3 linked regions of the Homo sapiens genome follow. The protein of the gene in region 1 purifies or fractionates together with the protein of each later gene. This does not show direct contact. Each region holds a gene or a part of one and is shown on either strand. Other genes may lie near its edges.

Region 1 (3,748 bases):
AGCCCTGCTCACCCAAGAGACCTCTTCCCCAGTTCCAGTTTGGCCCCAAATGGTTGCCTCTCCATAGACAAAATGTTTCCCACCTCTCTATCCCTTTAACTGTTTGACAGTAATGCAGATTCGTTTATCAGATTAACTGGAAGTCAATCCAGGTTGGCACCCCTGGAGAAGGCCTGGCCACCTGAGCTGCCTTCAACTAAAGGACTGATCTGTAATAGACACTTTAGCCTCATGTGGCCGTGGAGAACCAAAATGATCTATGGAAATGTAGGGAAACTCATTTTAGCTCACAACAAAGGAGTCACTTTTTACCTGTTAGAGATGTCCAATATTAGAATGGGCTACCTCATAAGGTAATGAGCCTTGTCACCCAAATGCTTTAAACAGAAGCCATCATCTGTCACATGCCAGAGGGTGCCCCTCAAGAGTGGGAGAGCAGGGGCTGAACTGCTGAGTTCCCGCTGCGTCCTGTTGCTATGCTGCCTGCACCCTTGGTGGGGAGAAGAGAAGAGGTGGACTGCTGCGGAGGACCTGGCAAACAAGGACCCAGGTCTTGAGGGGATGGGGGCTGATGGGGAAACCGTAGGGTGTGGGAATTTAAGGATTAGTGACATTAGTAACATCACTTCCTCTCAAATTGCGTTTACAGCCTTTACTCGACTGTCCCAAACATGGCCTGTTTTACAAAGCTGCTAAGAAGCACAGCTCCAAATCTGGAGCTGTGAGTGCCCGCCCTGACTCTGACTAGCTTACAGTGAAGCTTTGGGAAGTTGTTTTCCGCTGAGCTCTTATTTTCTCATCCAGAAAATGAGGGGGTAGGATTTGGTGAGTTATAAAGTGCCTTCTAGCTCTAGCAGTCTGTGACTGGCCCTGCTCTTTCTGAGCAGATCAGTGAGGCAATGACCCCAAAGCGGGGCTGCCCAGAATCACCACAGGCTTCCTTTGGCTCTCCACCTTGCCCCAACCCCTCTGGCCACTGCTGCCTGGGGGTCTTTCTCCAGCTTGCCACATTCTTGCTCAAGTGTAGTTTAGCACCATGGATGGACAGCAGATTTGAATTTGAAATCAGCCCTAACATTAACTAGCTGGGTGACTTTTAGTAACTTTCTTTCTTTGAGCCTTAGTTGCCTCATCTATAAAACCAGAGTTGGACAAATAGATCAGCTTTGCTGGGGTTGATAACTTCAGGCCCTTTCAGGAGTCAGGTCCCTGTTATTCCAGGGCTAGGGGAGCACTCCAGCTCAGAACGTTACTCTGTAGCACAGGATGCGAATCATCCACTGATACCGTGGCCATGCAACTCTGAAACAGACAGCAACCCCCAAACCCCCGGCCCTGCCACCAAGCACATCTCAGGAGACCTCCACTGGTATAATTTCCCTTGTCCCTAAGAATCTCCTTCCCCAATCCCTTTCCTTTGCAGTTAGAAAAAGGCAAGCAGGACTGAGTTTAGTGGTTTTAAAATTAGGGGTGTGGCCAGGCACAGTGTCTCATGCCTGTAATTCTAGCACTTTGGGAGGCCTAAGCAGGCGGATCACTTGAGCTTAGCAGTTCAAGACCACCATGGGCAACATGGCAAAATCCTGTCTCTACAAAAAAATACAAAAGTTAGCTGGTCATAGTGGTGTGCCTGTGGTCCCAGCTACTCAGGAGGCTAAGGGGGAGGATGGCTTGAGTCTGGGAGGCTGGGAGGTGGAGGTTGCAGTGAGCCGAGATAACACCACCACACTCCAGCCTAGGTGACAGAGCCAGACCCTCTCAAAATAATAGTAATAAATAATAATAAAGTTAGGGGTGATCAGGCCCTGAACAGGGAAATGTTCTGTCCAAGGTCACAGAGCAAAGAGAACCCAGGTGTCCACAACTCAGCCAAGAGTCTTGACCCCTGTGTCGTCAGCTGCACACACGCTGCACACTCCACCAGCTCCTAGGCTTCTCTCCACATCTGACTTATCGAGGCCTGGGCTGTGGGTAGCTTTTTGGACAGAAAGAAGCAGAAAGCAGCAGGAGCTGCTCTCCGAGGACCGCACCTCAAAGAGCAAGATCCCCCAGGTGGGATCGCTCTGAGGCTTCAGGCAGGGGAGGCTGGTTTGAAAGCCGATCTCCAAGAGGGCGTGGCTCCAAAATGCTGGCAAATAAAAGCCTGGAGAGCCAGCACCAAGCTGGAGACCAGCAGGAGGCACAGGAAAACTGCAAGCCGCTCTGTTCCTGGGCCTCGGAAGTGGTGAGCTCGCTGAGGCAGGAGGAGCTCTGGGGAGGGTCTGGGAATGTGGACGAGGGCCCTGCAGGCCAAGATGGGGCAGATGGAGGGAGGAAGATGTTTGCGCTCCAGATGGCGAAGAAAATTCCAGGGAAGGGAGAATCACTGCACAGAGGGCTGACACACAGGTCCTTTCCAGAGACAGCTGCTCACACTCACACCCATACACACACACACACACACACAAAGGCAGATACAGGGAAAAGGCAGCACCATTCAGGCACACCTCACCTGTCAGACCAGCCAGCCCTGGCTCACTCACCTGGAATGCAGTATTTAAAGAACTCGCCATCCCACCTGCACACCCACGTAGAGACATCTCCCCACTGTGTTTCAGATGCCTATGGCGTCCCCTCAAACCCTGGTCCTCTATCTGCTGGTCCTGGCAGTCACTGAAGCCTGGGGCCAGGAGGCAGTCATCCCAGGCTGCCACTTGCACCGTGAGTACCTCTGGGACCGGAGGGCTAGGAGCAGTGGAGGTTCTGGGTGGGAGCAAAGAGCTGAGTGGACGGTGGGGCAGGCAGCACCCTAAAGGGCCCCACACTGAGGCACAGGCAACGGGAGCTGGGGCGAGGCAAACCTTGGCAGAGGCGCCGTCTACTGCTTGCCTATCTCCTTCTAGCCTTCAATGTGACAGTGCGAAGTGACCGCCAAGGCACCTGCCAGGGCTCCCACGTGGCACAGGCCTGTGTGGGCCACTGTGAGTCCAGCGCCTTCCCTTCTCGGTACTCTGTGCTGGTGGCCAGTGGTTACCGACACAACATCACCTCCGTCTCTCAGTGCTGCACCATCAGTGGCCTGAAGAAGGTGAGGAGGGCCCGGGCCCGGTGGATGGACGCTGGGGTCGCGGGAAGACCAGAGAGATGGAGATCCTAGACAGCCCTGAGAAAGGGGACTGCAGCACGGACTCCCCTCTCCCGCAGGTCAAAGTACAGCTGCAGTGTGTGGGGAGCCGGAGGGAGGAGCTCGAGATCTTCACGGCCAGGGCCTGCCAGTGTGACATGTGTCGCCTCTCTCGCTACTAGCCCATCCTCTCCCCTCCTTCCTCCCCTGGGTCACAGGGCTTGACGTTCTGGTGGGGGAAACCTGTGTTCAAGATTCAAAAACTGGAAGGAGCTCCAGCCCTGATGGTTACTTGCTATGGAATTTTTTTAAATAAGGGGAGGGTTGTTCCAGCTTTGATCCTTTGTAAGATTTTGTGACTGTCACCTGAGAAGAGGGGAGTTTCTGCTTCTTCCCTGCCTCTGCCTGGCCCTTCTAAACCAATCTTTCATCATTTTACTTCCCTCTTTGCCCTTACCCCTAAATAAAGCAAGCAGTTCTTGAATTTCTCTCTTTATTAAGTCTACCCCCAGCCACGGAAAGAGGAGTAGACCATGATTACTGTGAACCCCCCCTTACCCCAGGACACTGTGAATCTCTTCTTGCCTGTGCCCTCCCCCTCCCCCTGCCCAATAAATAAAAAGGGGACAAGGAAGTACACAGCGA
Region 2 (3,748 bases), on another chromosome or scaffold:
GCATTTGATATCATGGCGACAACTAGTCTCACGGCTTCCTTTTCTCTCCTGCGGCTCCGGGGTTTTACAGGTAGCTTGGAGCCTCGGAGGAAAACCAGGAGGCGGAGGGTGAAGTAAAAGAATGAACCTAAACTCTTATTAACCACTTTTGTTCTGGGAAGCAGGCTGGTTCGTGCTTCTCCGTACTGGAGAGATTTCTTTCAGTGCAACTGAACTGCCCACGACCAGAACACGCTCCAACCAGTTAGTTATAAAATCCTAACTGGACTTTAGGGGGAGACTAACTGAGGTAAGGAGGGCGGGAGAGCGATGGGGCTTTAAGATGAAAGACTGTATGTTTCTTAGGAACAGAAGTATTTTTAAACAGGTAAGAGCAATTGTTCGCTCCTCACCTGTGCTCCATGCAGTTGCTTTCCCTTCGGGGAAAGGTAGGTGGTGGAAAGAAAAAGGATCAGTTTCAGAGATGTCACCTCCATCGGCCACCCACCCACCCAAAAGCACTTAGGGCAGAGAGGGAGGCCGTTTCGGGGGTGTAATCCGAATACAAAACAATCAGGAGTAGGAATCTTATCAGAAAAAGCCTATTCCAGTTTCACTTCCACCTCACCCTTCCCAGAAAAACTTCCACCTCACCGAAATACCATAAAACCTGCTGAGATTTTTAAACTGCACGATCACTCACACATACACACACACACGCACACGCACACACACACACACACGCGGCACCGCTCTCTCACCTTCGGAATGATGAGGCAATACTGCAAATTCCGCCAACGCTAGGGCCAGCCCGAGCCACACTTTGAGGACACCCATCGCCGCCTCGGCACCCACGATGGAGGAGCCCAGCCTTCAGCATCCAAGAAGCGGCTCCGCCAAAACGCTGGCTCCGGCGCTTGGAACCCGGGCGCACTGAAGGTGGGGGACCGCGGGCCTTTACCTCCGGGAAAAAGAGATGGACGGGCGGAGAGCGACACTCATCAGCCCGGAGGCGCCGGAGCGGGCTGGGGTTCAATTCACTCGCTGCTCAGGCAGAGAGCGCGCCGAGTTCCCCCGCAAGGCAGGACGCCAACGTGAGCTTTGGGAGAATAAGAGGAGGCAGAGCACAGTTCTCCGCGTCAAAATCTCGCCGGAAAGTTGCTGGTCACTGGCCGATGGGATCTTCCAGCATTTCCCTCGGGCTAGACCCTTCCGATCCCGGGTCCCCGACAGTGGAAATCCTGGCTCTGGTTTGTCCGAAGCAGCTTTTTAAAGTTCGCTTGGCACCATACGTCGGCGTTGCGTCGGCACCGCGGGTCGCCGGGAGCCCCGAAAGACCCACCCACACCCACTCCTTGGTCGAGCCACCCGGCTCGGCAGACCTCATCTGCCGGGGTCCGCTCGCTGGAAACTGTGCAGCGCTGAGGGCAGCTCCGGGGACTCGCCCGCCCTGCAGCCGCACCGCACCACACCGCCTCAGGCTGCGCTCCCTGAAGCAGACTGTTCGGAAGCTTCAGAGGAAAGACTGGGGGGCGCTGCTGCTACTTTCTCGTCCCCGCCCCTCGCCTGGGTGAGGAGGGCTGCGGGGACGCGGCTTGCTGCACACCAACACCCACCTCCGCGCTGAACACCCCGGAGGAGGTCTGCAGGGTAGAGGTGCAATGATTACGGGAGTGGAAGAAGAGCCATAATTTTAATTGCACGGAGGAAAAAGCTAGCGAGGCTGGAAAAGACCCCCAAACTCAAGGCCACTCTGGCGAGAGAGCCTGGAAACGCCCAAAATACGCCGGGTCTGGACCCCGTGTTTAAAGGACACACGTTCAGCCTTCCTCTAGTCTCCCTTGCCTCCTTCCTCTCTGCTTTGCTCGGTGTGAAAATGGACCCAGAGACTCGGAGCTTTGGCGAAATTCCAGAGAGTCACGTGGGGAAAGGGAGAAGCGAGGAGGGAGGTGAGGGGAGGCCGGGAGAGCAACCTGATCCCTTTATTCATTCTGCTGGAGTTCAGATTGGCTTTGTCTGGGGAGGAATCAAAAGTGCTCATACCGGGGACGGAGGGGGTGGAGATAGGTTGCACAGTTCTTGCTCAGGCACACCGGAAGGCAGATGAACCGTGTCCACATCCCTTGTTAGGGGAGGAACCGATTCGGCGGGCTGGGGGAGCGTGTGCCCACATCAAAGGCCCTGGGGCTACCTCCCACCCCCACAGCCCGCCACTCCTGCTGAACTAAGTGCGTCCGGGGGACCTGATTGATCCTTCTTCCTCGCTCTGGGACCCTCAGGCTGTTGCATCCTGGCTTTTACCAGCAGCCCGGGAAGATCTTGGTGTGTGTGTCCTAGGCGGAGCCTGAGAGCAAATGCACCTTTCCCTTTCCCTAGGAGACTCTGTCAGTGGAACACAACGCGGTCTGGGAGCTGTGGGTCCAGCTGCGCCCCCAGATGCCAATGGCTGGGAAAGTAACATCAGGACACGGCCGACTGGGGCGCGCACTTGAAGAGCAGAGGCCTTGATTCCCCGCCAGGACTGACTGACGGCAGCTATTTTTATAGGACCGAATAAAAATAGCTGGTCCACGTTTAATCGTTTTATAAGGGAACAGTTGCATCAGAGAGATGCTGACTGGGTTCTGATTGGCCCAGAGAAGAAACGTCTCGGGTCCCTCAATTGAGTCGGGATGGGCGAAACTGTTGGAGGGGAAGCAGTTGCATGAGCTGTGCTGGCGGGGGTCCCACTTGTTTCCAGTCTTCACGAACACCATGACGCGGGCCCACGTTCTAACGTGCACTGACGCCACTTGGAACAATTCACTTTTCCGAATAACTGGAATAACTTGAAACTGGCAGGTCCCTGTCAGTGTTACTATTCAGCCAGAACAAAGGAGAACCTCTGACAACCTGGCTCTGAATCTTAAGTATTTGGAGGACCCAGGGTTTGCACATTTCGCCCTCAGTCTCTCTGTTGGGCTGTGGTCATTCTAGGGACAGAGGTTGTATCATCTTTGTATAATTGAAGCACATAGTAGGTGCTCTTTAAACATTTGTTGAAATAATGGATTAAGTGCCTGAGAGCAGCGGCCATATCAAGGGGAGCTGCGGGCCTTAACCTCCTCCCAAAAAAAGACCCCTCCCTTTTTATTTAGAAAGTAGGGCCTGTGCGGTGGCTCACGCCTGTAATCCCAGCACTTTGGGAGGCCAAGGCAGGCAGATCACGACGTCAGGAGTTCGAGACCAGCCTGGCCAACATGGTGAAACCCCATTTCCACTAAAAATACAAAAATTAGCCACGTGTGGTGGCACATGCCTTTAATCCCAGGTACTCTGAAGGCTGAGGCACGAGAATCACTTGAACCCGGGAGGCAGAGGTTGCAGTGAGCAGAGATCTCACCACTGCACTCCAGCCTGGGTGACACAGCGAGACTCTGTCTCAAAAATAAAGGTCGGGCGGGGCGGGGGGGTGGAGGACATCTTCTCAATCCATGTAAAGTGATGTGCAAATTCAAACTCAGCTTCCAACACACTCTGACAACCAGACGGTCACCCTTAAACCCCCTCCTAATTTTGCAGCTGCTACTGAATGGGAGTAACTTAAACCGTTTGTTCTCTCAAAAATCAACAATTTGATTTTATTTTAAAAATCAAGCTGGGTGCAGTGGGGTGCACCTGTAGTCTCAGCTACTCCAGAGGCTGAGGCGGGAGGATCACTTGAGCTTGGAAGTTGGAGGCCATGGTCCACCCTGATTACGCCTATAAATAATCACTGCACTCCAAAAAT
Region 3 (3,748 bases), on another chromosome or scaffold:
TACAAAAGGCCTTATAGTGAAGATTCATGGCTTCTCATTAAAAATAATAATGCTAAGAAAGTTTACATACAAATAACACCAAGGATGATTTATTGTGGTTTTACAGCGCCAATGAGGAAATTTAGTGCTTATAGAGGTTACAGAGGACCCCTTGAACCAGTGTAAAAAGATCAGCTATTCTACAGTGGAGAGCATTTCCTCTGTAGATCAAAGGAGCTTAAGCCTATGCTAAGTCTTTGGGGTGGTAAATGGAGTTCACACGTGCAATATCATTGCACTGTACAGGCCAAATGTATTTCTTATTCATCCTTTACTGCTCTGACCTTTCAACACTTTAGACATCCTTTTGTTATTCTTTCCATCAGTAAACCAGCTGTGGATCAGCTGAGGGCAGTAACTAATTTGCAGATGCGTCTGGAATGTTCTGTTTTTTACCCATTTGGGCTTGGGGTCTCATCTTACGTGTTGCAAATTGGAACTGAAACTTGTTATTATTTCTGCAGTCATTTACTATCCTGGTAGTATTTTTTATATCTTCGGTATGATATTCTAGGTGAGTAAGGTAGTAAATTTTCACCACAGTAAAGGTATAGTTTTGACCATTTGCTCAGAATATCAATGTAATGTTTTGTGTAGCATCTTAGCATTTGAAAGTCACGAGAGGTAAGATTTCTGGCCAGGGCATTTCTATGGAAAATAATAGCTGTGCCTCTTCTGTTAAAAAAAAGATGGGATGTGCAGAGTAACACAAGAAGAAAGCAAACAAACAAGCAAAAAGGACGTGCTTGATTTCCAGAAGGGAACATAAATGAAGGTTTTCTTGCCTTTGTTCATAGAGCTAGCATATGTTTTCACAAAATGTTTATATTTTGTGAATGGTTGTGCCTTGAAATCCTGCAATAATAATACTTAACCATAATCATTGTTAGTTGTTGTCATGTTAGCATATATTATCTTTTGGTTGGTATCGGAGTCAGCTGCAGAATGCCCTGCTTTTCTTCCCTACAAGTTCTGACTACCAGCCCTCTTAGTATCTAGTGGAACCAGCACCTTCTGAGCTGGCCGAGGGTAGGAGGTGTGCATGCCTATTGACCTGCACGGGAATAGAGGGAGAAGCCTTTGTCCTCCCTCACTAATCATGTGCTCTGACCCTTTGAGCTAACAATCTACTGGTTAGGCAATTGAAATGATATAAAGGAATAAGACCTGACATGTTGTTAATTGTGGACCTCCATTTAGAGTAAATCTACAAAGAAGAATTAATGTCTGGTTATTTGAATTCAGGGAGAAGATCCCTTGTGAACAAACAGATTGTTTACAATGTGCAATAGCTGTATTTATCCTTCTGTGAGTTGCTTATAATCCTTGATTCCAGCCTGAGATTACCAGTAGCAAAGCCCCTTCCCCAAACCACATAACAATTTGAATAACACCTCTGAAGGATAAAACTAAATGCAAGCCATACTGGAAAAATATTTTACCTAGAGCCCCCCCATTGACAGCATGTGGACTTGGAAACTCTGGAGAGGCCACTTTCGAGGCTGTGAAAGCAGGAAAGTCACTGAACTTAATGGAGCCTCTGTTCCTTCATCTGTAAAATGATAAATCTCTAGATAATAGAGTGAGTTAACTATGCATTGCTCAGCACATAGTTAGGCTTGCAGCGAAAGGTTTGTTTAATCTGAATCTGAGGAGAAAGGTCAAAATAATTGAGATCCAAAGTTTTAGATAAGGAGAAAGGAAGACATTTTAAAAATGGAGATGCGAAATGTGAAGATCAGGAAAATATATTTTTGAAGATTGAATTGTAAGAACCATATCATAGCTTTGTAGGCAGGGAAAATGATTTTCCCTTTCAGTGAGTAATTTAAAATATTAATAGTTTAAAAATAGTTTTATGTTAGATTCTAAACAATTAGGATTGATTTCCCATGGCAGGGCCCTCTTCCCTCATTCATCCTAGTCATAGGCCATGAAATGTTACAGGATAAGCATACTGCGGATGGACAAAAGGGAGGAAAAATAACCTGAAAAATTTTGTTAAATCATATTCGCATTTACATTTTATTTTTTATTCTGAGTGTAGTTTGTATGAGTAAAGCTAGAAGAAGCATTTTCCAAGTAGGTAGGAAGAGATACATTCGCAGGGAGAACTTTGTTCAGAGATGTCCTGAACACCTCCCACCCTGCTGATTAATTTTGAGCTGTGGATATTATAGGACGCTTGAAATGTTGATTCACATGGGCAGTGAATTCTGGGTGCTTATGGATAGTCCTGGAAATAGGGGATGTGGTTAGTCTGATGGGTTGTATGGGAGTGGATTGTGCTTGCCTAATAAATTCTTAGGCATTTTATAAACAGGAGAGTTAGTTGGTGCTGTAGTCCCAGATTGGTCTCTGTGTGATATATCTGGCTTTGCACAGGGCAACTCTTCATGCTCAAGATCCTCAGCCCTGACCCCTGCTAGCCACTCTCATATGCATATTTCTTATGATGAGGCAAATGAAGGGATAGTAGGGGAACCTTTGCTGGAAAAAACAATTCAGAGTGCATGGTCTGGTGATGGCGTGTCTGCTGCATTAACCTCATAGATAAGGAATGGTTTGTATGTGGTCATTGGGGATTTCGGGGTCTATTTGAAGTGAAAAACTGCATTTTTGTGAGCCTAAAGGCAGCTGACTTTGCCTTATCACTGTCTTTCATGGGCTTACATCCAGAGGTCCTAACCTTAAAGGTCAGCCAGAGAAACAGGGTAGTACAGTGAGAAAATTTTCAGCAATGTCTGACTCTTTGGCTGAGAGAGGGAGTCCTGACCCAGAAATATCCCCTGGGCAGGGAGGGATATTTTTGTTGTCGGTTCAAGTTATGTGAAGCAGTGTCTGGTTTTTACCAAGGCTGAAGTATCTCCAGGCATTGCTCTGCATTGGGACTTTTTTATTCATTTAATTCAGGTTGTGATCAATGACAGAAAAGCTGACTTTAGCTTCCTGGCTGGTAAAAATAAATGCTTATAGACATTAATGCATGCTAGAATACACACACACACACATATATACACATATACTTATATATGATATATACACAGATATGTATGTGTGTAATATATGTACATATGCACAGCATATATATGTCAATTTTTATTTTTACCAGAATAAAGTTTGCACATAGTTTAGAGTAAAATTACTCATGAGTGTTCTCACTAGTTTCAACAGATTATCCATCTCTACATCAAAGGGTACCAAGGAGGAACAATCAATACCAATAAACTCTCCAATTTGAGTTCATCCTGAGAGTAAAATTAGATCGGAAAGAAAACAAGACTAAGAGTCAGGTTTGAGTGAAATTCCAGGGTCTTTACTTTTATCAACCAACCTGACCCTCAGTTCCTCATTTTTCAGATAGGGAGCCATAATACCTACTCCATCCACCTCATAGAGTTGCTGTGAAAATCAGGTGACCTAATAGTGAAGATGAGTGTGTATTAGCTAAAATAAGGCATAGGGAGCATTATATGATCTTTAAAGACACCTAAGAGATGCACAGGCACTCAGAAGAGAATAACAACATACAGTAATTTTCCAGATTCTTGTGATTGTCCCTGGGGATATAATGGGGGCTGAAAGGAAGAGGAATAAGTGTTGTGCCTGATTCTCCCATAGGATGATGTGATAGCTACACTTTTCCCCCAAGAGCCATGGAGACAGGACAGGGGAGGGGGCAACTGACAAGAAAACCAGCCAGCTAAGG

Evidence for each region.
Region 2: the proteins of GPHA2 (region 1) and FRAS1 purify together in Homo sapiens (affinity purification with mass spectrometry; 3 studies listed by BioGRID and IntAct, with this or other methods). This does not show direct contact.
Region 3: the proteins of GPHA2 (region 1) and PCSK5 purify together in Homo sapiens (affinity purification with mass spectrometry; 3 studies listed by BioGRID and IntAct, with this or other methods). This does not show direct contact.

The regions. Positions count from the first base shown.
Region 1 is NC_000011.10:64,934,310-64,938,057, reverse strand, and holds GPHA2 (glycoprotein hormone alpha-2 precursor), read left to right. Parts: upstream 1-2,164; 5' UTR 2,165-2,224; intron 2,225-2,597; coding exon 2,598-2,700; intron 2,701-2,882; coding exon 2,883-3,067; intron 3,068-3,183; coding exon 3,184-3,285; 3' UTR 3,286-3,587; downstream 3,588-3,748. UniProt on the Homo sapiens protein: Functions as a heterodimeric glycoprotein hormone with GPHB5 able to bind and activate the thyroid-stimulating hormone receptor (TSHR), leading to increased cAMP production. Plays a central role in controlling thyroid cell metabolism.
Region 2 is NC_000004.12:78,055,078-78,058,825, reverse strand, and holds the start of FRAS1 (extracellular matrix organizing protein FRAS1 isoform 1 precursor), read right to left. Parts: upstream 1,504-3,748; 5' UTR 817-1,503; coding exon 741-816; intron 1-740. UniProt on the Homo sapiens protein: Involved in extracellular matrix organization. Required for the regulation of epidermal-basement membrane adhesion responsible for proper organogenesis during embryonic development. Involved in brain organization and function.
Region 3 is NC_000009.12:75,893,667-75,897,414, forward strand, and holds part of PCSK5 (proprotein convertase subtilisin/kexin type 5 isoform 3 precursor), read left to right. Parts: intron 1-3,748. UniProt on the Homo sapiens protein: Serine endoprotease that processes various proproteins by cleavage at paired basic amino acids, recognizing the RXXX[KR]R consensus motif. Likely functions in the constitutive and regulated secretory pathways.